Regions from separate parts of the Homo sapiens genome. Here all the other regions are linked to region 2. Evidence: fine-mapped expression QTL. A gene starts in region 2. Each other region holds a variant in brackets. All regions are shown on one strand. Distances are between the middles of the regions. Region 1 overlaps STK38L (serine/threonine kinase 38 like). Region 2 holds the start of STK38L (serine/threonine kinase 38 like). Region 3 has its middle 22 kb from the start of STK38L.

The links. PIP is the estimated chance that this variant, and not a neighbour inherited with it, causes the effect.
Region 1: its variant is fine-mapped to the expression of STK38L in whole blood (INTERVAL, PIP 0.98).
Region 3: its variant is fine-mapped to the expression of STK38L in whole blood (INTERVAL, PIP above 0.99).

The regions. Positions count from the first base shown.
Region 1 is chr12:27,308,980-27,317,169 of GRCh38, forward strand. It overlaps STK38L (serine/threonine kinase 38 like), which reads left to right. Exons shown (of 14, transcript NM_015000.4): 5 at 135-218; 6 at 3,570-3,693; 7 at 5,525-5,679; 8 at 6,036-6,138; 9 at 6,310-6,371. Among named protein-coding and RNA genes, the nearest start is that of BMAL2, 20 kb to the right of the region's middle. The variant CA/C (reference allele first, on the strand shown) is at 4,269.
Region 2 is chr12:27,241,032-27,249,221 of GRCh38, forward strand. STK38L (serine/threonine kinase 38 like) reads left to right here and starts at 3,255. Exons shown (of 14, transcript NM_015000.4): 1 at 3,255-3,301. RefSeq lists enhancers at 1,966-2,025, 4,614-4,663 and a silencer at 3,084-3,323.
Region 3 is chr12:27,218,407-27,226,596 of GRCh38, forward strand. No RefSeq gene overlaps it. Among named protein-coding and RNA genes, the nearest start is that of STK38L, 22 kb to the right of the region's middle. RefSeq lists enhancers at 1,796-1,845, 1,986-2,155, 2,176-2,245, 3,905-3,974. The variant CA/C (reference allele first, on the strand shown) is at 4,583.

The DNA.
Region 1 (8,190 bases), 68 kb after region 2:
ATATATAGATATATATATATAAAATTCCTGAAATACCAACACTGGCAAATTCCTGCTTTCTTTAAGGGAAGTTACTTTTCTTTCCTGAACAAATAGTAGTGACTGTTTTATAATATATGTTTTTTATCTTTTAGGTGCGGTTGGTCCAGAAGAAAGATACAGGCCATATCTATGCAATGAAGATATTGAGAAAGTCTGATATGCTTGAAAAAGAGCAGGTATGAGTTCTTTAACACATGTAATATAAAGGAGCATCCACTGACGCAGTGTTAAGAGTGTTTATATTAGAATTTTTAAGAAGCAGTTTACACATCTTACTACATAAGCTATTAATTTTTTGGTAGCCTGTTTTAGTGTTTCTCAGTTCTTTTAAGGTTTCTTCTAAATTTATAATCTATGTATGTCTGCTTAGACTTCCATAACAGAACACAACAGGCTGGTTAGCTTAAACAACAGAAACTTATTTTCTCATAGTTCTGGAGGCTACAAGTCAAAAATGAAAGTTTGGGCAGGTTTTGGTTTCTGGTGAGGCCTCTCTTCCTGGCTTGCAGATGGCCACCTTCTCACTAAGTTTTCACATGGCCTTTCCTTGGTGTGTGCGGGGACACACACTCCTGTGAGAACTCTCTGGTGTCTCTTCTTATAAGGACATTAATTCCACCCTTATGACCTCATTAATTAACCTTAATTAATTCCCTAAGGGTCCATCTCCAAATACAGCCTCATTGGAGATTAAAGCTTTACTCTATGAATTTTGTAGATGCATGAACATTCAGTACATACCTTCTGAAATACCTCCTTTTCTGACTACAATGAAAATAAAGGACAGTTCTCAGCTCCCAGAATCCCTGTCACATATCAGATAATCAAAACTAGTCTCCTGGAAATTTGCTGATTTTACATATTTCTAAAATCTGTAACCTTGTAAATATTCTGGGCTCTCTGCATGTTTCCTGTGCCTTAATGCAGTTACAAGGGGTGGCTTCGAGTAAAGGAGGGATGGCTTTTTGAATATTTAAGGAGAGAAATTGTGAAATGGTCATTTTCAGGTGCGGGAAAGCAGACCTGCTAAGGAAATGCAGTTGAAGGCTCATTGAGATTTGCAGTCATGAATTTAAAGTGAAACCCATTGGCATAGCTGGGTGATTTTTCACCCTAGTTTCAGTTAGGTTAAGAAGGTAATAGGAACCATCAGGAGACAGGGTTATAGGGGATTTTGTTGATGACAGGCTATGATTCCCCAGAGGGAAGAGGTGTGGAAGGCAAGGAAGGTTGAGATACTGAGTTGGATTAGAGAACTATAGATAATGATGGGAATATAGCAAGACCCCATTCTCCACAAAAAGGAAGAAAAAAGAAAGATAATGATGGCAATAAGGACGTGGGTAAAGATGCATAGCCTCAGAGACAGGGAGGGCAACAGGAATCTAACTTAGCCATAATGGGATTAGTCCTACTAGGGTATAATAGGAAGGACAGAAGGAAGCAGTTAGTTCCAGCTGTAGTGTAGATACCAGCCAGCCACATGTGGCTACTGGGCACAAATTGGGATATCCAGCAAATAAGGCTTGGTGCAAAAATAAATAAATAAATAAATAAAATATTTCAATGATTTTTATATTGATTACATACTAAGGTGATAATATTCGGATATATTAGGTTACATAAACTGTATTATTAAAAATAATTTCATTCTGTATGTGGCTTCTAGAAAATTTAAAAATTACATACATGACTTGTGTTACATCTGTACTGGACAGCCCTTGGTCTACAATATTTTGTGGGAAGTTAAGGAGCCTCTGGACCACTGCTCTTTCCTGTGGGGAGGTGGGGGGCGGAAATCTCTCCGTAGCCTAACGTCTAGTTGCCTTTGCATTTTGGGGTTGTTTTTTACCCCTGTATAAATTAATTTGCATTTGTTACCACTGGATTTTGTTTTAGAAAGCTTTTTTCTACTCAATTCTAATACATCAATATTTTAACTTTTATCACATTTATTTTAATGCAAACCACCCCCACAAAATTAAATACCAACTGATCTCCTCACTGTTGTTCTACCAGATTACTATAGGTCATACTTTCCAACCTTTGGATCCTGTTTTGGAAAGGGATCCTGTAATTTGGCTTTAAACCATTTAAAAATAATCAAGCCATGTTTATGTTGTAGTTGTTTTCCTTACACACCAGATGCAACACCAAAGTTTAGGGCTTTTCCTTACCACCTTAAATTGCTTCATGAAAGGTAATAGGTAGGCACTCTTGCTACCACTTTTCACTTAATGAAACAGATCCATAGAAATTATAAAGTATTTTCATGCCAGAAGACAAGTTCTTACTCCTCAACTCTTACGCTTTGATCTCAGAATATTTACTGCACTAGGAGTAATTCCAAATATGACACTTTAAGCAGATCATATTTTATTATCATAGAAAGGTTTACAAATGTATGTTCTCATGTGCTTTGGACCAGAGTTTTTAACGTTGCACAATGAAAATAGCAAAAGCATAAATCAAATCTTATTAATCTTTGGAAAAAGTGTATAAATATATTAATGCAAAAGCATCTGCAAACTGACCAGTTATACCAACCCCATAAATTATCCAGTTTATAAAATTTTCCAGTCTATAACATTTTCACATGATAGTATCTCTAGTAATTATGTGTCCGAGAAATCAGTGGCAAAATCCCCAAAAGTTACACAAATTTGCTTTAGCTAACATTTATAGATATGGTAGAGGTTTTATATTATAACAATAATATAACATAAAGTTACTATAATTGTTACTATTTCTTTAAAAAACACCAAATAATGATCAAGCTGGGACCTTTGTTTAACAATTAAAAATAGTTTGCTATTTTTAGCCAAGCTTAGGTTTGCTGTACCAATTTACAGGGCATTGCTTACTCTTTTTTTTTTTGAGATGGAGTCTCGTTCTGTCACCAAGCTGGAGTGCAGTGACGCAATCTCGGCTCACTGCAACCTCCGCCTCCCGGGTTCAAGCGATTCTCCTGCCTCAGCCTCCTGAGTAGCCGGGACTACTGGTGTGTGCCACCATGCCTGGCTAATTTTTTGTATGTTTAGTAGAGACGGGGTTTCACCGTTTTAGCCAGGATGGTCTCAATCTCCTGACCTCGTGATCCACCTGCCCTGGCCTCCCAAAGTGCTGGGATTACAGGCGTGAGCCACTGTGCCCGGCCCTGCTTACTACTTTTAACTTTAAAAATCACACTAGTGCCCTAAATTTATGTGACAAAGCCAGGATCCTAGGCTGGGTAGAGATTCTGGTTAAAAAGTTGTTAGACTGATTCTTGCTCTACCTCAGAGGCCTCAGCTTCACGTAATATACCTGTTGACCTCACCTTTTCAGACCTAAAGATATAAGCTAAAATAAACTATTTCTTGAGGTTCTCCATATTTGATGAGAATACGAACATTCATACATGTATCAAATCTTCTGAAACTCCATCTTTCCTTCATTAACTGTTATGGATGGATAAGTGTAAGAGATGAGTTTAACAAATGTGTGATGTATTTACAATTATTTTTTTCAAAAATATATTCATCTAGGTGGCCCATATCCGAGCAGAAAGAGATATTTTGGTAGAAGCAGATGGTGCCTGGGTGGTGAAGATGTTTTACAGTTTTCAGGATAAGAGGAATCTTTATCTAATCATGGAATTTCTCCCTGGAGGTAAAAGCAAACATTGTATCAATGACAGACTGATACAAGCACATCTTTATATGCAACAATAATTTTATTGGTGAGGTTTACTTTTATATTCTTTGCTCTGAGGCTTTACATAGTCACAGTTTAAAAATATTTACTACCATATTGATGCTCATTTTTACCACAAAACAGATTGTTTTGAAGGAATTATAAAGTTAGCACATTTTAAATATTACCGTTCTGGGTTCACTGTATATAATTAGGTTGTTATAAGTTGTGTTAGTTTATTTTATGTTGTTACAAAAAATACCTGAGACTGGATGGGCGCAGTGGCTCACGCCTGTAATCCCAGCACTTTGGGAGGCCGAGGCGGATGGATCACGAGGTCAGGAGATCAAGACCATCCTGGCTAACAAGGTGAAACCCCGTCTCTACTAAAAATAAAAAAAATTAGCTGGGCGCAGTGGCGGGCGCCTGTAGTCCCAGCTACTTGGGAGGCTGAGGCAGGAGAATGGTGTGAACCCGGGAGGCGGAGCTTGCAGTGAGCCGAGATAGCGCCACTGCAGTCCGGCCTGGGCGAAAACAGCGAGACTACGTCT[CA/C]AAAAAAAAAAAAAAAAATACCTGAGACTGTGTAATTTATAAAGGAAAGAGGTTTAATCATTGCTCAGCAAAGAGGGCAAGGGGAAAAGAATGGCAATGGAGGGCAAAGAATTCTGGGTTTTGTTTTGTTTTGTTTTAATTTTTATTTTTTGAGATGAAGTCTCGCTCTGTTGCCTAGGCTGGAGTGCAGTGGTGTGATCTTGGCTCACTACAACCTCTGCCTCCCGGGTTCAAGCGATTCTCCTGTCTCAGCCTCCTGAGTAGCTGGGATTACAGGTGCCCACCACCATGCCCAGCTAATTTTTTTTGTATTTAGTAGAGACGGGGTTTCACCATGTTGGTCAGGCTGGTCTCAAACTCCTGACCTCAAGTGATCCACCCACCTCAGCCTCCCAGAGTGTTGGGAATACAGGCGTGAACCACTGCCCCTGGCTCCCTATTTTTTTTAAAGCCTCAAAAAATATATGAAAAAAATGTAATCAGTTGTCAATTCTGTGTTGTAAGTGCACCAGTGTTTACAACAGTTAAAACTGTTAAAACTTTTAAAATTCCTTGAAAATAAAAGAATGTCTGCAGGTGCCTTTTTTAGTGGGATAATGTCCCACTAAACTCTAAAAGAATATATTTCGTTTCCAGGTGCACTTATTCTGATTTTTTTGCAGTTTGACATTTTCCTCAGCAGTTAATTCTAGAAGTTGAGTGGTAGATATTACTTCATTATCAGCTCTTTTGTGATTTGATTTCACATGGTCTCTGCCTTAAAACCATTAAAAGTCATGAAACTTCTGCTATGCAATAGCACTTTTATTTGTCCCAAGATGTGGTTAGAAATATACTGGGTAGATCATAAAATGCAAACTCAGGAAAGCTAGCTGGGCATGGTGGCTCATGCCTGTAATCCCAGTACTTTGGGAGGCCAAGGCAGGCAGATAGCTTGAAACCAGGAGTTTGAGACCAGCCTGGCCAACATGGCAAAACCCCATCTCTACTAAAAATACAAAAATTAGCTGGGTGTGGTGGTGCACACCTGTAATCTCAGCTACTTGGGTGGCTGAGGCATGAAAACTGTTTGAACCCAGGAGGCGGAGGTTGCAGTGAGCCATGATCACACCACTGCACTCCAACCCAGGCAACAGAGTGAGACTCTGTCTCCAAAAAAAAAAAAAAAAAAGTAAAAAAAGCAGGAAAGCTTTTACAAGGTATTCCACCTTTGAGGCATTTTCAATAATAATATATTTGACTATCCTTTATTTAGGTGACATGATGACATTGCTAATGAAGAAAGACACCTTGACAGAAGAGGAAACACAGTTCTACATTTCAGAGACTGTTCTGGCAATAGATGCGATCCACCAGTTGGGTTTCATCCATCGGGATATTAAGCCAGACAACCTTTTATTGGATGCCAAGGCATGTGAATAAACTGGTGAATTACTAGGCTGTTGATTATTTTTTAGAGCAGTAGGGCTGATTTTGTGAATGGAAATCAGCAACTGCAATTTAGAATATTGCTAAACAACATTATATGATAAGGTACTAGGAGAGGACTTGGGAATTAAATGACAACAGGGAATATGGCTCTCTTTTTATCTCCCTCCATTTTCTACTTTTAAAAATCATCATCAGATACTTAAAATTTTACATTTTACGTGTATAAATCCCAAGCTAAGAATTTTTATTATAATTGCCATTTAATAGAGGAGTTTATAACAAGGCTTTTTGTTTTCAAAGTTAATATGATCTAATTTTACTGGATTTTTTTTTAGGGTCATGTAAAATTATCTGATTTTGGTTTATGTACGGGATTAAAGAAAGCTCACAGGACTGAATTTTATAGAAATCTCACACACAACCCACCAAGTGACTTCTGTAAGTTTGGTTGTTGTTTTTCTTCTTTCCCCTGGTTAAGATACTGTAGAGAACAGAAGGTTCTTTCCCTTTCCCCACTCCTTAATCCACTGTGTTTTAGATGTATATGTATTTTCTTTTTGTGGAGAGCATTTTTCCCTCGTGATTACAATTCCATATTGTTGAAATTAGCATTTCAGAACATGAACTCAAAGAGGAAAGCAGAAACTTGGAAGAAGAACAGGAGACAACTGGTGAGTCAACCAGTTTTTAAGAGAATTTTATGCCTTGGTTCTAAAATCTTACCTGGTTTTAACTTGATTATTTTTATCTTTATAATAATTAGTATTTACTTCATAACAATGGTAGCGCTTGCTCTGGGATCACACAGTTTTCTTAGTTTCTCTGTTAAGTTTCCTTGCCTGTAAAGCAAAGTGTTGGTTTTTACTTTGTAACTTTAGAGTAGTTTACTGAGCATACCTACAAGTAAGCTGTTTACTAGTAATTAGCACTTTAAATAAAACTCACTGAGGTGAATGCAATTGTAATGAATGCCTTGTGATTTCCATTTTTCCATTTTTCATAACTGTGTTACAAATCCTGATACAACAAATATCAATCAGCAAGTAAGGTGGTTGTGAGTTTCTAAAAACTTCTTTATAGACAAAGTAAACAGGAAGTTTGGGATGTAAACAGTGTTACAATAAAACAGATAAAATTTGAAAAAGCTGGCTTTGCCACAGATAAATTTAATTACTCCTTTAATATAGAATTACATTATTTTTAACCCCATACTATTTCCTTTCTATAACTGAGCAAATAGAAGAATTGCTTCCCCTTTCTCCTCTTTCCCTTTGTCCTGTTAACATGGTCCATCAACAGTCTACAGGTTAAGAATGTGCCTTAGGATTTTCTTTTTCTCATTTCTTATAAAATGCCTGGCACATACGGACACTCTATAAATACTTGTTCAACCAAATGATGAAAGGAAAACTAATTCAGCATTCCCTCAGGAAAGTAAACAGACTGAAAAATAATAGGCTAATACCCTCTAAAACCAAATAAAATGACCTTTGCATTATTGAGCTTATTATCTCATTAACCTAAGTAACTGCAAAAACTTGTAAAACATTTCAGTATTTTTAAATGTATTGAGTTACACATTAAGGAGAAAAACTTTGTTCTACTTTTAAAATGTGTCCATTTTAGATCAGGTTTTGCAATTGAGAATAATTGCAATATTCCCTATTTTTAAAGGGGAAAAACTGAATACTGCTCAAAATTATGGTGGGGGAATTCTGTACCCCCCTATTTACAAAATATTCATGGGTGATTACTCAGGTGTGTGTTTTATTATTCTCATGGCCAGTAGTTGCCAAGCCTTAGATCGAGTGTTTCCCAAGGGAGAAGTAGAGAGGACTCAGTGTTTGGGGCAGGAAATTTCTTTAGCACCTGGATCCCCTGCCCTGTAAATGCCAGTTATGTCACTGAGATGACAAAATCTGTGGTCCTACATTTTGCCATGGCCCCAAGAGTACTACCCCTGGTTGAGAATTACTGCCTTGTAGAAATCATTTTTGTAAGATTTTATATGAATTAAGAATTAAAAACTGCATAGCTTCCTAAAGGATAAGCAGTACCCTGGAATTACATTTATAATGAAAATACCTCATGCTTATTTTTGTAGTTTGTAGTTTACAAAACACATGCCGTTTATTGTTTCATCTTCATATCAACTCTATTAGGGCAGGTATTATTATTCTAGTTTTATGTAAGCAGAAGCTGAGCCTCAGAGAAATTGAATAATTTGCCCAAGAACACATTAGTAGTGAGTGGGGAAGCCAGGTCTTCTAGGTTCAACTTTTTCATTCTTTTTGAAATAGACTGAAGGCTATATATATAAATAACTTAACTGAGCTTCTTGTGGGGGCAGAAATGATATATTCTTATAAAATGCCTGGCACATATGGACACTCTATAAATATTTGTTCAACTAAGTGATGAAAGGAAAACTAATTCAGCATTCCCTCAGGAAAGTAAATAGACTGAAAAATAGTAGTCTATAACATATTA
Region 2 (8,190 bases):
TATAGTTATATATATTACATATATGACTCTGTATAGTTATATATATTACATATATGACTCTGTATAGTTATATATATTACATATATGACTCTGTATAGTTATATATATTACATATATGACTCTGTATAGTTATATATATTACATATATGACTCTGTATAGTTATATATATTACATATATGACTCTGTATAGTTATATATATTACATATATGACTCTGTATAGTTATATATATTACATATATGACTCTGTATAGTTATATATATTACATATATGACTCTGTATAGTTATATATTACATATATGACTCTGTATAGTTATATATATTACATATATGACTCTGTATAGTTATATATATTACATATATGACTCTGTATAGTTATATATATTACATATATGACTCTGTATAGTTATATATATTACATATATGACTCTGTATAGTTATATATATTACATATATGACTCTGTATAGTTATATATATTACATATATGACTCTGTATAGTTATATATATTACATATATGACTCTGTATAGTTATATATTACATATATGACTCTGTATAGTTATATATATTACATATATGACTCTGTATAGTTATATATATTACATATATGACTCTGTATAGTTATATATATTACATATATGACTCTGTATAGTTATATATATTACATATATGACTATGTATAGTTATATATATTACATATATGACTATGTATAGTCATATAGTTATATATATTACATATATGACTATGTATAGTCATATAGTTATATATTACATATATGACTATGTATAGTTATATAGTTATATATATTACATATTATGTAATTTTTTCACTAAACTCAAACTGAAAATTAGCATTTCTTCCATCATGAATGTAGGCAGCAAACCACAGGAATATTAGCAATACCTGTGACTTTTCCTCAATAGGAATCACACATATTTTCTACCCCATTAAAGTTGTTGTAGATATCTCAAAATATTGTTTCTGTGTATCATTACTACAAAATTACTGTAGGTCTTGATCTTATTATTTAATGCATTAATAAAGAGGCAAATATATAACTATTTTAGTTATCTATGGCAGTGTAACATAGTATCCCAAAAGTTAGTGGCTTAAAACCACAAATATTTATTGTCTCACAGTTTCTGTGGGCCAGAAATCTGGGCTTGGCTAGTTGGGCCTGCTGGCTCAGTATCTGGTTTTACAAGGCTGCAGTCTAGGTGTCAGGTGGGGCTGCAGTCATCTCAAGGCTCAACTGGGAAAGAATCTACTTCCAAGCTTACTTACATGATTATTGGCAGTATTCAGTTCATCACAGGTTGTTGGACTGGGGGCCTGAATTCCTTGGTGGCTGTTGACTGGATCTCTCTCAGTTCCTTGCCATGTGGGCTTCTCTGTAAGGCAGGTCACAAGACAGCAGCTGGCTTCCATGAAAGCGAGCAAGTGAGAGAGCAAGGACAAGCAAGATGGAGCCCAGAATATTTTTGTAACCTAATCACGGAAATGATATCCTAATCACTTTTGCTATATTTCCTTTTTAAGAACTAAGTTACTAGAGAAGGGAATTACAGAAGGCAGGAATACTAGAAGGCGTGGATCATTGGCAGCCATCTTAGATGCTACTACTACTTACCACATAATTATATTACAAACTCACTTTTTAGTATTTTGGTAACTGTATGTTAACATTATCAATTTCCTTTGTAACCCTAGGTAGTTTATGCATTTAAGAACACTGTTTTGAAAAGGGGTCCATAGACCACCAAAATTCTGGTTCATAGCTCTAATTTGTTTCAGTTGAGGTACTTTCAACAACTTCCCAGGGAAATTTGTTTACAATGGTCTCAATTTAGGAGAATTTAGGAACTAGAGGTCAAAGTCTTAGGCTATCCCATATTAACCTAGACTGCTACTCTATACTAGTTCATATTACTCTAGTATGGCACATTTGAAGACATAAATTTGCTGTGGAACAAACCATACACTGTTCTCAATCTTATCGTAGCATTTGAATGGTATGTGTATGCGTGCAGTACAGGGAGAAGGGTGTATAGGCCTGTCAAGCTTGTCTGATCACAATTAAACCTCCTATGCTTGTATATGACAACTGTCATTTGAGTTTCAAAATGACCATATAAGTGGAGCTGATCTCCCCAAAAATACACTAATTACCAAACTAGAGCTTTTCCCACTACTAAGCTATGTATGAAAAAGCACAGTGTAAGAAAGAGAAATGAGGTAATGCTTCTTTCCTAGGTGTTTTGCTCGTGTCACCTGCTCTTGGGAAACCTAAAGATGACAGGTGGCATTTCTAAGTGATAGTTTTTGCAAGCACAGTACCAGCTTCATACGTTGTCTCAGTAAGCTAAAAGCTAAGAATATTTTATAAGACCTCCAATACTCATATTGAGGATAAACTTGCCAACAATAATTGGGAGTCATTCTCTCATTTGGCTTTCCCAAAGGCCAGTTTTGTCCCCAGACGCAAATTGCATCAACCTTCCCAAAGTTGTCCCTTTTGGGTCATCCTATAGGGGAGTGCTCTTCTGCACAATTCTCAGATCCTACTGATAAAGCAGGCCAGTACTGTAGTTATTTTAGATTTTCCAAGAAAACTCAAACAGGTTTTTAATGTATTTTTTGTGGCATTTACAAATCCTGGTTCCTCTCCAGTCTCTGGAGTCCCCTCATGGTGAAATGGAAGCGTCAAGGAACCTGGGTGGCTTCGAGTCCCCACAGCTACCGACTGAGCAACTTAGCTGATCCATCTTTGTTGACAACTGTTTCCCAATCTGAAAAATGCGTGAATTCTCTCTTTCCATTTCTAACATTCTTTGCATTGCACTGTTTGAAAAATTCGGATGACATTTAGAATGTGACTAATGTCGCAACACATTAGGCCACTCTCAAGAGAGGCCTGAACAGGTTTGGCGTAAAAACGGCAGTGAGGTGAGGCTGGTGAGAGGGGAAGTGGCGACAGTTCAGTCAACTCCCTCAAAACCAGTCTGGCCTTCACCAGGCGGAGATGGGTGGGGCCGGGAAGACGGGCGTTGACGACAGAAGGCTACTTCCGGCTGTGGTGCGTATGACGTCAGGGCGAGTCGGACCGACCCAGCCACCGAGAAGCCGAGGAGGCAAGGCTCGCGAGAGTTCAGGGAGGCCGCCCTGAGATTCCGGCGAGGCCGCGGGTCCCACCTCCCGGGGGCGGGGCGAGGGCGGAGCGGGGAGAAGGGAGCTGACGGGCGCCCGGCCGGCTGCGGTCCGTGCGGAGGCTGAGCCGGCCGCGGGCGCGACCGGAGGCAGGTGAGTTCGCGGATGTAGCGCTCGGCTGAGGGCCCGAGCTCGCCGCGCCAGCCCCAACTCTGCGAGCAGGAGCAGGAGGAGATTTTAGGTGTCTTTGGGTGTCCAGGGAAAGCCGGGCTAATTCTGGGGCTGGAAATGTCTCCGGGGAACCTGCGGCGACGGCCTTGGCCCTCTTATTCCCCGGGGTGATACTGGCCCCATGTGTCCAGAGAGGGAGCCTCGCACCCGGGGAGGAATCTTTGTCCTCTGCTCCTTTCTCCTTCCACTCCCCGGCCCCCGAGCACTCCGCTCCGGGTCCCCGCCTGGGCTTCACAAACAATAACAAATGTCGCGGATCCTCTCCGGGTAGCCCCAGCGCTCCCGTCCCGTGCCCTCCAGCCGATGTCACCCAGAGCCAGGATCCGAAGCATGGCTCTTCAATTGTGGGGGCTGTTTGTGTACCGTTCCTAAAAACTGATGCGTCAGATTGCCAAACATTTCTCAAGACAGACTCAGGAAAGCCTCCCAGCTCCTAGAAGCCACGGAGTGCTCAAAACCAGTCTTAGAATCTGTCTTTACCATTGCACCCGTAGCCCCTTCCTTTCAAAATCATTTCTCCCACTCCTTTTTTCACCTTTAGTATCGAGGTCGAACGAGTGGTTATTTGGTGTGGGAGTAGAAAAGAGTATAACCGATTGAGTAGGGCACGTTTCACCTTTAAAAAGTTGCCAGGTTGACAGCAAAAGAACAAACTTTATTTTCAAAACCAGTGGCCTCCCCTTTTACTGGTGCTGCTTTTGTTTTGTGGAATAGCTTTTCGGGTTCTAAGTTTGGAGGAATGATATAAAAAGAAGTGGGAGGTGGGGGGAGGGCTAGTGGCTCTGGAAGTAGTGGCTTGTCCAAAAGTAGGATGCTATTGTTTCTCACTTGATAAAATGCAGAACCAACACTTTTACCCATTTCACATAACTTGTGATAAGTTTTGAGAGAAGCCACTTAATCGGAAATGGCCTATTAGCTTATTTTACTGCTCAAATCTGAAAAAACAGCTTTAAGTGATTTAAGTTCTGCCTCTTGATTGTAAGATGGGGATTGATGAGTGAGACCTTGTCTTTTTTGGCGCTGGGGCTTACGTTTGACCGGTCTCTCTACTTTAAGGCAGGGCCTATTGTACTTAAGCCCATTTTTGCTTCCTCAGTACAGATTCTTGAAAGTTCTTTGTCTCAATCATATATGTATATAAGGTACTGTAAACCTCTTTGAATTTGATTGGCCTTTCTCTCTGTGCCTCAGGATATGTAAAACAATTAAGTTTATTATACTCTCTCCCCAGTGGCTGAGAGGTATTGTATGTGAATTAGCCACCCTTGTGACTATTTGAGGAGAGAGAAGTTAGTCTAAAATATTATGTTAAATTATGATATTACATAATTTTATTGCATAAGTTCATCAAACTACTTCCATCTGAAAAATCCTGATCTCAAAATAGGTAGGTACAATGAATTAAAAAATGTTTTGGTTTGACCTCACTTAGCTTTGTTTTCTCCTTGTTAAGATGGCTGATAATGTTTCCCATTTGGTTGTGATGTGTTTAGAATGAGAAGCAAAGTTGGGTGTAGTTTTTGTACTCTTTTGAAAGGCCTTGCCACTAGGAATGAAAAAATTAGACTTAGAAAACACACATTAAATAGAAGCAGTTTTTCTCTAGCCATTTGCTCTTGAGTTTGTTTTAAAATAAGTCAAAGAATGGAGACTGAGATGATTTGTGCCAACAAATAGATGTCCTTGTTAGTTTTTATGCTGAAAACTTGATTTCTAAAGGTAGGACACTGTAAGAACAAAGGAGAAATTGGACTTCCTAAAAAATGATAACAAAGCAATGGACTCAGTTCAGCTGTTTGCTTTCAGAAAAGTTCTGTTCTCTTAAAGTAAGGAGAGCATCATTGTGTTAGTGAAATTGGATAACGCACCTTAGAAAGTGCCTCCCCAGTGATCCAGGATAAGTTGGAGGCTCTTTTGTGTGTGTGTGGCACTTTTTGTTAAGAGGGAGAAAGGGCACAAATCAGAGCCAGAAAGATTTGCATCTCGATGTATTGTTAAAATGCTTTTATTTTATGTAAATAGTGTCAGGTGAATCAAGCAAGCATATTGTTGTCTAGCATCCTTAGGATTACATTAAAATCAGCAGATTGGCAAGTTATGATTAGGTTAGACTTGACATATGCAGAAATTATGCTTCTGTATTTTTATATTAAAAGCACCATGGTCTTTTTGAATGAAATAATGAAAGCAAGCTTTTAAGACATAACTTTTTTAAAAAATTAAAAATCTGTCTTTGGTTAGTTTATAAACATGAAGCATATCCTCCTCTTCTTCCCCCCAAAATTTTTGTTTAAGTCTTAAGAAAGTCTTTAGCAAGGTATGACCAGTACTTAAGTGCACTGGTTGCATAAGCCTTCTGTCTCCAGGTAAAAGTTTGCTAATTGACAGGGTATTATTGTTCAGAATCTTTAGAGGGAGAGAAATGAAAGGCAACAGTGAACAGTGTTTGCTGCTCTGTACACTCGGACGAACTGTGGTTGCTACTCTGTACACTCGGACGAACTGTGGTTGCTGTCTTCAAGGAGATGTGATCCAGTGGGAGAGAAATATACCTACCCAAATAAATACCATAGAAAATGTGTTTTATGAGGAAGCCAAGGAGGGAGGGATTAAGTGCTGCTAGACCAATTAAGGAAGACTGAAATAGGAAAAGGCGTTTCTGTGGATGATTTAAGTGATCTAGTCATATGATAATGATGATAAGTAAATACTTTATATAATGCTGCTTCCTGCTAAATCCTTTACATATATTACTTACTTGCCTGGCTTTAATCCTCACAACAACTGTATGGAGTAGGTATTTTTATTATTCCCGTTTTGCAGATGAAGTAACTGTGGTACTAAGGTTAGATAGCTATTGAGTGGTAGGACCAGGATTCTGACCCAGGCATTCTGGCTTGTACCCATATGGCATGCTTAACTGCAATCCATATTTTCTCTCCTGTTCATGATGGTCTTCCTCAGATCTGTAGTTTCAAAAACTTGACTTGGGAAATACATTCTTCTGACATCTAAATTTTGGGGTCAGTTTTCTAGAAAGAGTTCCAAAATAACACCCAAGTAAATGAGTTATTTTTGACATGTTATTTTAATCCATTTTTGGAAGTTATTCTTGGTGCAGATTAAATATAACTATTGAGTGGGACTTTTTAATAATTTTGACTTATTACCTATAAGTACTCATAAGAACTTAGAAGTGAGAAGTTATTCCATATTAACTCTTTTGCTTAATGGAATGTTTGCGTCTTTGTATATTTTGTCCTGTAATTTATTTTTTTTAAAGAAAGAACCTCACTGTCTTGCCCAGCCTGGACTCGAACTTCTGGGCTCAGATGATCTTCTTGCCTCCTAAGTTGCAGGAACTATAGGCCTGAGCCACTGTGTTTGGCTTTGTTCTGTAATTTTTTTTTTTTTTTTTTTTGACAGAGTTTAAGTCTGTCTTTTAGGCTGGAGTGCAGTAGTGCAATCATGGCTCATTGCAACCTCTGCCTCTCAGGCTCAAGCGATCCTCCCACCTCAGCCTCCTGAGTAGCTCGGACTACAGGTGTGCACAAGCACGCCCGACTGATTTTTAAATTTTTTGTAGAGACAGGGTTTCACTATGTTGCCCAGCCTGGTCTCGAACTCCTTGGCTCAAGTGATCCTCCTGCCTTGGCCTCCCAAATGTTGGGATTACAGGTGTGAGCCAATGTGCCCAGCCCTGTTCTATAATTTTTTAAACCACTTGGCACTGGATAGTTTTTGGGTTGAATTATGAAGTTGAAATTTAGTTAATGATTGAATGTTGGTCTCAGCCCTTTTAGTTTATTTTCATGAATAGCTATGCTTATAATGGCAGAAACAGGGTGAATAGAGTGTTGTACATGTAAAAATGAGAGAAGTTCCATCACTGATACTTTATGTTGGGGCAACTTTGACAGTTCTTTGGGTTTGTGAAATAAAGGGTGCTATAGAAGTGCACAGTGTCTTGTATAGGCCTACTCAGTACTGTAAATGTCCACCTGATTTTATTTATGAAGTTTCAGGAATAGTCCACATTTGTTATTGTTTAAGAATTGGAATCACAAATTCAATTGGATTTAAAGGTTAGAAAAAAAGTATACCTAGGCAGGGAATACAGCAGGTGAGCGGTGGGAGAGGTATTGCCTGCCTTTTCCTAACTGTCCAGCAGGATCCAGACTCTTCAGCTTCTTTGTCAGTGCCTGCAGTTGACCGTACTCATAGTTTAAGTACAGCTCCAGAGTCATAGTCTCTGTGAACGAATATAAGTATTCTCCACTTGACTCAATGGGGTAGGTTCTAGAAGACACCTATACTAGGACAGTTGATGGTTGATGAGCTTAAAACCTAATGGGAAGAGTAGCAGAACTAAAGCCAGGATTTAAAGCACGTGTGTTTATATTATTGAAATAAGACAGAGATGGCAAAACAAATTTTAAAAAGTTTTTTTTTGAAACATACCTTAAATTAATAGTGATGGTATATCATTTCCATTTACCATGCCCTGATTGGCAGATCTTTAGCCCATCATTTCATGGAGATACTTAGATGTGGACTTCGCTTTGTTATAAAAAGTTTCCAAGTTCTTCTAAGTACAGGTGGTTTGGGAAGATTGTCTTAGTAAAAAGGTGTGTGAGTAGGTCTATCAAAAGAAAACCAGTCATACTGTTACCTCCTTGCTGATTCAAGTTTTGGGGGCATCTTTTCCCACCAGGAACAGCTTATCTGCATTGAACGTCTGCTGAGGCAGGTAGCCTGCCTCTTAGATGAGCTCTGCACAGATCTTAGGGAAGACCTTAACAGTTACA
Region 3 (8,190 bases), 23 kb before region 2:
CAACTAGAAGTAATCAACATTGTAAAGTATATTATTTCACTCTTTCATAACATTTACATGTTATGTTTTAAATAGATAAAATGTATATAATATGCATAAAATGTATATAAAAAGATATGTGTGTGTGTGTGTGTGTGTATGTACACACACACACACACACAAATTGGGATCATGATTCGCATACTGTTGTTGTGCCTAACAAGATACCTTGAACATTTTTTCATGTCGCTGAGTTTTCCTCTATAATACTTTTCAAAGGCCACATAGTGTTCTGTTGAATCCAGGTACCAATTTATTCAAGAAATCCCTTACTATTAAACATTCCAATTCTTTCTAGATTGTATTATTTGAGACAAGGTCTCACTGTCACCCAGGCTGGAGTGCAGTGGCGTGATCATGGCTCACTGCAGCCTCAACCTCCCTGGCTCAGGTGATCCTCCCACCTCAGCCTCCTGAGTAGCTGGGACTACAGGCATGTGCCACGAAGCTTGACTAATTTTTTAATTTTTTTTTTTTTTGTAGTGCAGGGGTATCCCTATGTTGCCTGGCTGGTCTTGAACTCCTGGGCCCCAGTGATCCACCCATCTCAGCCTCCTAAAATGCTGGGATTACAGGCGTGAGCCACCATGTTCAGCCAATTTTTATTATTATACATAATTCTGTGAGGAATAACTGCATAACTCTCTCACACTTCTGATTATTTCTTAAGGGTAAATATTCATAGACGAGAATGAACATTGTATTTTGATATCACTTGTTTCTGCCTGCCTAGAGTTTCTTCTCATTTTCACATGATAGAACTGACCTCCTACCTCACTCTCTCATTGCCTTTTAGTATCTGCCTCTCCCACAACTGGTAAAATGTTTCATCACATGGCTGGGACTGATCAGAGTGCCCTGTCTCCTACCACTCCAGGCACAGTGACTGGTCCAGGAGTGAGCATATGATCTAAGTAGGGCCAATAAGAGGGAAATTTTCTAGGTCTGATAATAACTCTTGGATGAAAACATCTCTTTCCTTCTGAAATTCTTAAATGGCACCAAAAATCATTTAAGGTTGGGACTGATGAGGGCCCTCTTGATGCCAACATGGAAGAAAGCAGAGCTAAATAATGAAGTGACAAAGGGGGATTCCTACTGACATCTTTTTTCTCTTTCTTTCTTTCTTTTTTTTTTGAGACAAGGTCTCACTGTCACCCAGGCTGGAGTGCAGTGACGCGTTCATGGTTCACTGCAGCCTCAAACTCTTGGGTTCAAGCCATTCTCCTGCTTCAGCCTCCCCAGTGGCTGTGATTACAGGTGTGCACGTCCATGCCTGGCTAATTTATTTTTATTTTTGTAGAGATAGGGTTTCACTATGTTGCCCCAGCTCGTCTGGAACTCCTGGCCTCAAGCGATCCTCCTGCTTCAGGCTTCCAAAGTGCTGGGATTAGAGGTGTCAGCCACTGCGCCCAGCCTGATGCCATCATTTCAGTTCCTGGTCTCAGCCATGACCGAAGCAAGGTGCTTCCCTAGACTTGTCCAATTATTTGACCTAATAAATTTCCCTGTTTATTTAAACTAATCTGAACTGGCTTTCTGTCTTTGGCAATCAAGGCTCTTGACTAATGTAACTATTGTTAAGGTTTTGATATGTATTTCCAAATTACCTCCCAGAACTACATTGCCAAATACACATGTGGAATGTGGAATTTTAAATTGAATTAATGTTAATATTGCTGCAATGTATCAGTGTAGAATTACAGTATGAGTCAATCTATCTTTTTTTCGTATTTCCATACCCTCATGAGTAAAGCAAAACATCTCAAACAAATCATCACACTCAAGTAAGTAAAGGTGGAGACTGTGATGAATAGAGATCAAGCTAGGTTTATATTATGCCCAGACATCAGGCTGAGTACAAGCCCTTGCTGTCAGGGAGGGGGAAATAAGGTCCATGTACCCTGTAGCCAGTTACACAGTGTGTCTCTAATACCTTTACTTTCTTCCCACATGCAGAAGTGAAAGTTAAGAGAAGTCTGAAGAAGGAGTCAGTTCCAAGAAAGGAGTTAAATTATTCAAGAGTAAGTTGTCAACTTCAAGTCAGTGAGCCAAGGCAGAGTAGTTCATAAAGAAACTGTGACTAGACTAGGTGGTACTCAGTTTCTGAGACAGATTTCTGAGCCAGGCCTGTGGGCAGCTGTACGAGGAGATGGGTTGGGGAGGGGTGATTTTAAAAGGATGCTAAATAACACTGGCAAAACCAAATCAACTCCACACACCAGTGAGATGAACTGGAAAACAGTGTTCATTACTCCAGTTTTTCTATCAACTCCTTATGTAGCTGTGGAGCTAAAAACTGGCTCCAGTCTCACTGAGGTAGACACTATCCTTTTTTTATTTTTTTTAATGGAGACAGAGTCTCGTTGTGTCGCCCAGGCTGGAATGCAGTGGTGCAATCTCTGCAACCTCCACCTCCCAGGCTGAAGCAATTCTCATGCCTCAGCCTCCTGAGTAGCTGGGACTACAGACACACACCACCATGCCTGGCTAATTTTTGTATTTTTTAGTAGAGATGGAGTTTCAGCATGTTGGCCAGGCTGGTCTCAAACTCCTGACCTCAAGTGATCCACTGGCCTCAGCCTCCCAAATTGTTGGCATTACAGGCATGAGCCACCACGCCCAGCAGCACTATTCTTTTAAATAAAATTTGTACGATGCTATTGATTTGGACTGGGCCTCTACAGATCAAACCAAAATGGAGTCACTCATGCTAAAGTTTCATGTCACCAAACAGAAACTAAGTCATCTACCTTTCAAGAAACTAAGGGGGAGAGAGAGAAAGAGGGAAAGACAGCATAGCCAAATCCCCTAACAGGCCAGTTTTAGCTGGCATGATAAAGGAGTACCCCCTGCTTTAATCCGATAAGGAAAGTAACTTTGAAATGACCGATTCACTTTTTGTTCCTTATTTCTGCTTTTTTTTAACCCCTTTTCTGCCTATAAAGCCCACCTCTTCTGCTTAGCTCATCAGATCACCTTTTCTAAATTTTTTATTTTATTGATTGATTGATTTTGGGTAGAGATGGGGGTCTCTCTCTGTTACACAGGCTGTTCTCAAACTTCTGGGATCAAGTGATCCTCCTGCCTTGGCCTCCCAAAGTGTTGGGATTACAGGCATGAGCCATGGTGCCCAGCCACCTTTTCTAAATTTTTATGGGAGATAGTACCCTGATCCATTCATCACAAATAAAAGCCAATTAGATCACTTAACTACATTTGTTGTAATTTTGTCTTTTGACAGTTCTCAAAAGGAAATGAAAACAACACTTTATTAGCAGCAGCGCATCTAAAATGGATATTTTTGAGATGCACCTGTGCACTCTTGGTCAGTTGAAACTTCTGAGTCAACAGTAGGTGGCCTAGTGCTGTTTCCCGAGAATGAGTGGTTTAACTCACCCTTTCATATACCTCTCAAAATGATTTCTTGTTCTTAAAATTACGAATAAACAAAACTGAAGTGAGAAGATGAGCTTCAGAAAAATGGGAACTGATCATTAAACTTTTTTTAGAACATTTCCTGTTCTTCAGCTAGTAGAAGTGGATTATTTTAAAAATCTGTTTCTACTTAGACTTTTTATTGATTAAAAAATAATACATTTCTCCATATCCTGACCAAATCAATGTTGAATACACATTGGTAGGATATTGCTTGTAGGGGCTGCTTGACTTGGCCCAGGCTTGCTGGGTGGTTGGACGTGAAGGGTAGGATAAAGCCGCAAAGATCTCCCCACCCCCCAGCCCCAGATTGCTTAACTGAAGAGACTTTGGAGACCAGCTGGGTAGCCAGGATTGCAGAAGAACAAACTTGAGGACCAGCCAGTTCTGCATTAGAAATTTTGGAGGCATTGTCCAGAGCCCTGAGAATGAGAGAAGATCTCCAACCATCCACGGCTGTTTGGGCAAAGAAAGCATCGGGGAAAGGGAGGTAGGACTCAATAGCTGAGAATCAGGCAAAAAAAATCGGGAAAGTGGGTAATTATCTTATTCCCCACTATCTCTCCTTTCCACTGGCCACCCTTCCAGGTATCCTGTGATCTGAATTCCAGCTCTGCTCAGTTCAGCCTGGGGAATCAGAAGAAAAATTGTCTCTGTCCACAAATCCCTTTCCCCTACCTCTGCTGCTTCAGTGACAAAAACTGAAAGAAGAAATTGGTGTAACAAAACTTTAAAATTTGTATATTTAGAAAATCTGAAAGAATCAACAAGGAGAACTCCTGGAACTAGTGCAGGATATGGTTAACATCCAAAAGTCAATTGCAACCAAGTGCAGTGGCTCACGCCTATAATCCCAGCAGTTTTAGGAGGCTGAGGTGGTAAACTGCTTTAGCCCAGGAGTTCGAGACCAGCCTGGGCAACATGGTGAAACCATGTCTCTACAAAAAATAGAAAAATTAGCCGGGCACTGTGGCATGTGCCTGTAGTCTCAGCTATTTGGGAGGTTGAGGTGGGAGGATCACTTGAGCTTGGGAGGTCAAGGCTGCAGTGAGCCATGACCATGCCACTGTGCTCCAGCCTGGGTGACAGAGTAAGACCCTGTCTC[CA/C]AAAAAAAAAAAAAAAAAAAGTCAATTGCTTTCTCATATACCAGCAATGAACAAATGAAATTTGAAATAAAAACCACAATACCATTTACATCAGCATTCCCCAAAATGAAATTGGTAGAAATCTAATAATATATGAAGAAGTTCTAGATAATGAAGAGTATAAAACTCTGATAAGAAAAATTTAAAAAGATCTAAATGATTGGAAAGATATTCCATGTTCATGGACAGGAAGACTTATCTGGTCAAGATTTCAATTCTTCCCAACTTGATCTATAGATTTAATGCATTCTCAATAAAAAGCCCAGCAATATATTTTGTGAACATGAACAAACTGATTTTAAAGTTTATAGGAAGGGAAAAAGACCCAGAATAGCCAACACAATATTGAAGAAGAAGAACGAAGTCAGAGGACCAACACTATACCATAACAAAGACAGTGTGATAGTGGTGAAAGAATAGACAGATAGATCAATGGAACAGAATAGAGAAGCCAGAAATAATTTACATAAATATAATAAAACTGATCTTTGACAAAGTAACAAGGCAATAAAATAGAGAAAAAGAGAAACTTTTCAACAAAAGGTGCTGGAACAATGGAACATCCAAATGGAAAACAAAAATTGAATCTAGACACAGACTTTACACCCTTCACAAAAATTAATTCAGAATGGATCATAGACCTATATGTAAAATGTGAAACTATTAAAATCTCCTAGATAATAACCCTGGAAAAAAATCTAGATGACCTTGGGTATGGCAATGACTTTTAAAATACAATACTAAAGTCATGATCCATGAAATAAGAAGTTGGTAAGCTAAACTTCATTAAAATTTACAACTTCTGCTCTGCAAGAGAATGAGAAGATAAGCCACAGATGGAAGAAAATATTTGCAAATGACATATGTGATAAAGGACTGTTATCTAAAATATACAAAGAACTCTTAAAACTCAACAATTAAAAATGAACAACCTGATTAAAAAATGGGCAAAAAACCTTAACAGAGACCTCACCAAAGACCATACAGAGATGACAAGTATATGAAAAGATGCTCGATATAATATCATATGCCATTAGAAAAATGCAAACTACTAAATGCAAAGTGGCTGCACCACTTTGCAAGATAGTGTGGCAGTTTTTTTTACAAAATCAAACATACTCTTACCATATGATCCAGCAGTTACCTTCCTTGGTATTTACCTAAATAAGTTGAAAAGTTATGTCCACACAAAAACCTGTCCATGGCTATTTACAGCACCTTTATTCATAAATGCCAAGACTTGGAAACAACAAAGATGTCCTTCAGTAGAGGAATGGATACATAAACTGTGGGACATCCAAACAATAGAATATTTTTCGGTGCTAAAAGAAATGAGCTATTAAGGCATTAAAATATATGGAAGAACCTTAAATCCATGTCACTGAGTGAAAAAGCCAGTTTGAAAGGCTACATACTGTATGGTTCCAACTATATCACATTCTGGAAAAATACAAAAATTATGGAGATAGTAAAACAATCAGTGTTTGCCAGAGGTTAGCAGGGAGGTAGGGATGACTAGGCAGAACACATAATATTTTCAGGGCAGTGAAACTGTTTTGTATAATATTATAATAGTGGACACATGTCATCATACATTTTTCAAAACCCATTGAATGAACAGCACCAAGAGTGAACCTTAGTGTAAACTATGGACTTTTAGTGATAATGATGTGTCAATGTAGGCTCATCGATTATAACAAATATGTCATTCTGGTGCTAGATGTTGACAGTTGGGGAGGCTATGTGTGGGGAGGTAGGGGGTATCTGGGAACTCTCTGTACTTTCCATTCAATTTTGCTGTGAACCTAAAACTGCTCTAAAAAATGAAGCCTATTAAAGATGTATTAGCTAAAAAAAAGGGTATAAGTGATGAGTCAGTGAAAGGCAGATAAAAGCATTGAGTAGCAAAGGCTCATTTTCATCAATACTGCCCCATTAAGAAGAGTTTGCTTTCTTCTCTGACATCTTCCATTCCCCACTCCGTTCCTACTTCCACCCTTTTAAGCATTCAGTCACTTTGTAGTCCCCATGCATTTATTTTGTCAAAGTCTGATCTTACGTTAGTATTTCCATATTTTAGGATGGATACACTTTACAGCCTAGACCATAGACCATCCATGCTGAGACAGTTAGAGAGTGATGGGCTTATTCCTAGGTGGGAACAGTTCTATGTGTCTGGTTCCTACCTGTTTGCTCCCAGACTTTCCTGTCCCCTCTCCTTTTTTTCTGTCCCCAGCTCATGGGTACTCTGGATCTAGAATCCTTGCCTTGGACCCACAGTAGAATTGACATGCTGGGCTAGACTGCCCTGGCCTGGCCATTGCCAGTCTTAAGCCTCCAAGTTTCTTTTGCCCTTGGCAACTCCCAGACATATAAGCCCGGCCTTTTTGGTGGGAATGGGGGTTCAAGAGAGACATCTAGAGCTTCTTTTTTCCTTATCAGTTACACTCCACTTCAGAGGTCTAGACCAACTCCCAGTGTGAGTTGCTTCTGGAAGGTTTCTCATTGAACATGTCATAGGTTACAGGTGGTTATGAGACAAAGATGGCTTTAACACATGTTAAACCATTTAGAAACTTAAAAATTTTTATAGCGTTTGAAATTATTTTTGTATTTTTATAGGTAATAATCATACAAAGAAAATAACATATTTTCTTTTTTTTTTTTTTTTTTTTTTTTGAGACAGAGTTTTGCTCTTGTTGCCCAGGCTGGAGTGCAATGGCATGAGCTGGGCTCACTGCAACCTCTGCCTCCCAGGTTCAAGTGATTCTCCTGCCTCAGCCTCCCAAGTAGCTAGGATTACAGGTGCCTGCCACTACTTCCAGCTAATTTTTTGTATTTTTAGTAGAGATGGGGTTTCACCATATTGGCCACGCTGGTCTCGAACTCCTGACCTCTGGTGATCCACCCGCCTCGGCCTCCCAAAGTGCTGGGATTACAGGCCCGAGCTCTATATTTTCTCCAAGTCTTACATAGTTTCTCCCAAATGCCTTTCAGGTTACAAGTGGAGTAAGAGGAACTGAATTACTTCCTGGATGTCAGTACACTTGAGTTTAATCTCAGTTACTCAATAGATGGTGACTGAGGTTATTCATGACTTAATTCCTTCAGATCTTCCTCGCGTATAGGAAGAAGGGAGAAGGACCAGATTGTCATCTGGTCAAGTCTTCTCCAGCCTTAAAATTTTATGATTTCTGTATGTTAAATGCAAATACAGATGGTGACTGTTTGATCCAGCCCAGTTTCCTCCTATATCATGTTTCTCTCAAAGTGAAACCTAAAATCTTGAAAAAGCTTCCTATAAAAGGCCACACTTCAGATTTCATCAACTCCCAAAGCAGACTGTCTATGGATCAGAAATTCTCATCTTGAAGTGGGGCAAGTCCTCACTTGTACACATGTTCTTTCCACTCAAATGCAGACACTGTTCTTGTGGAAAGAGTAGAGGTCAGCCAGCCAGAGGCCCCATTCCGAGGGGATTGAAAGGTCTCCCAAGGCAACCACTCCCAAAGGCGGGTTGAGTTTCTGTGAGCTGTTTCCTGCCTGAACAAACAGCCCCTCCCAAGCC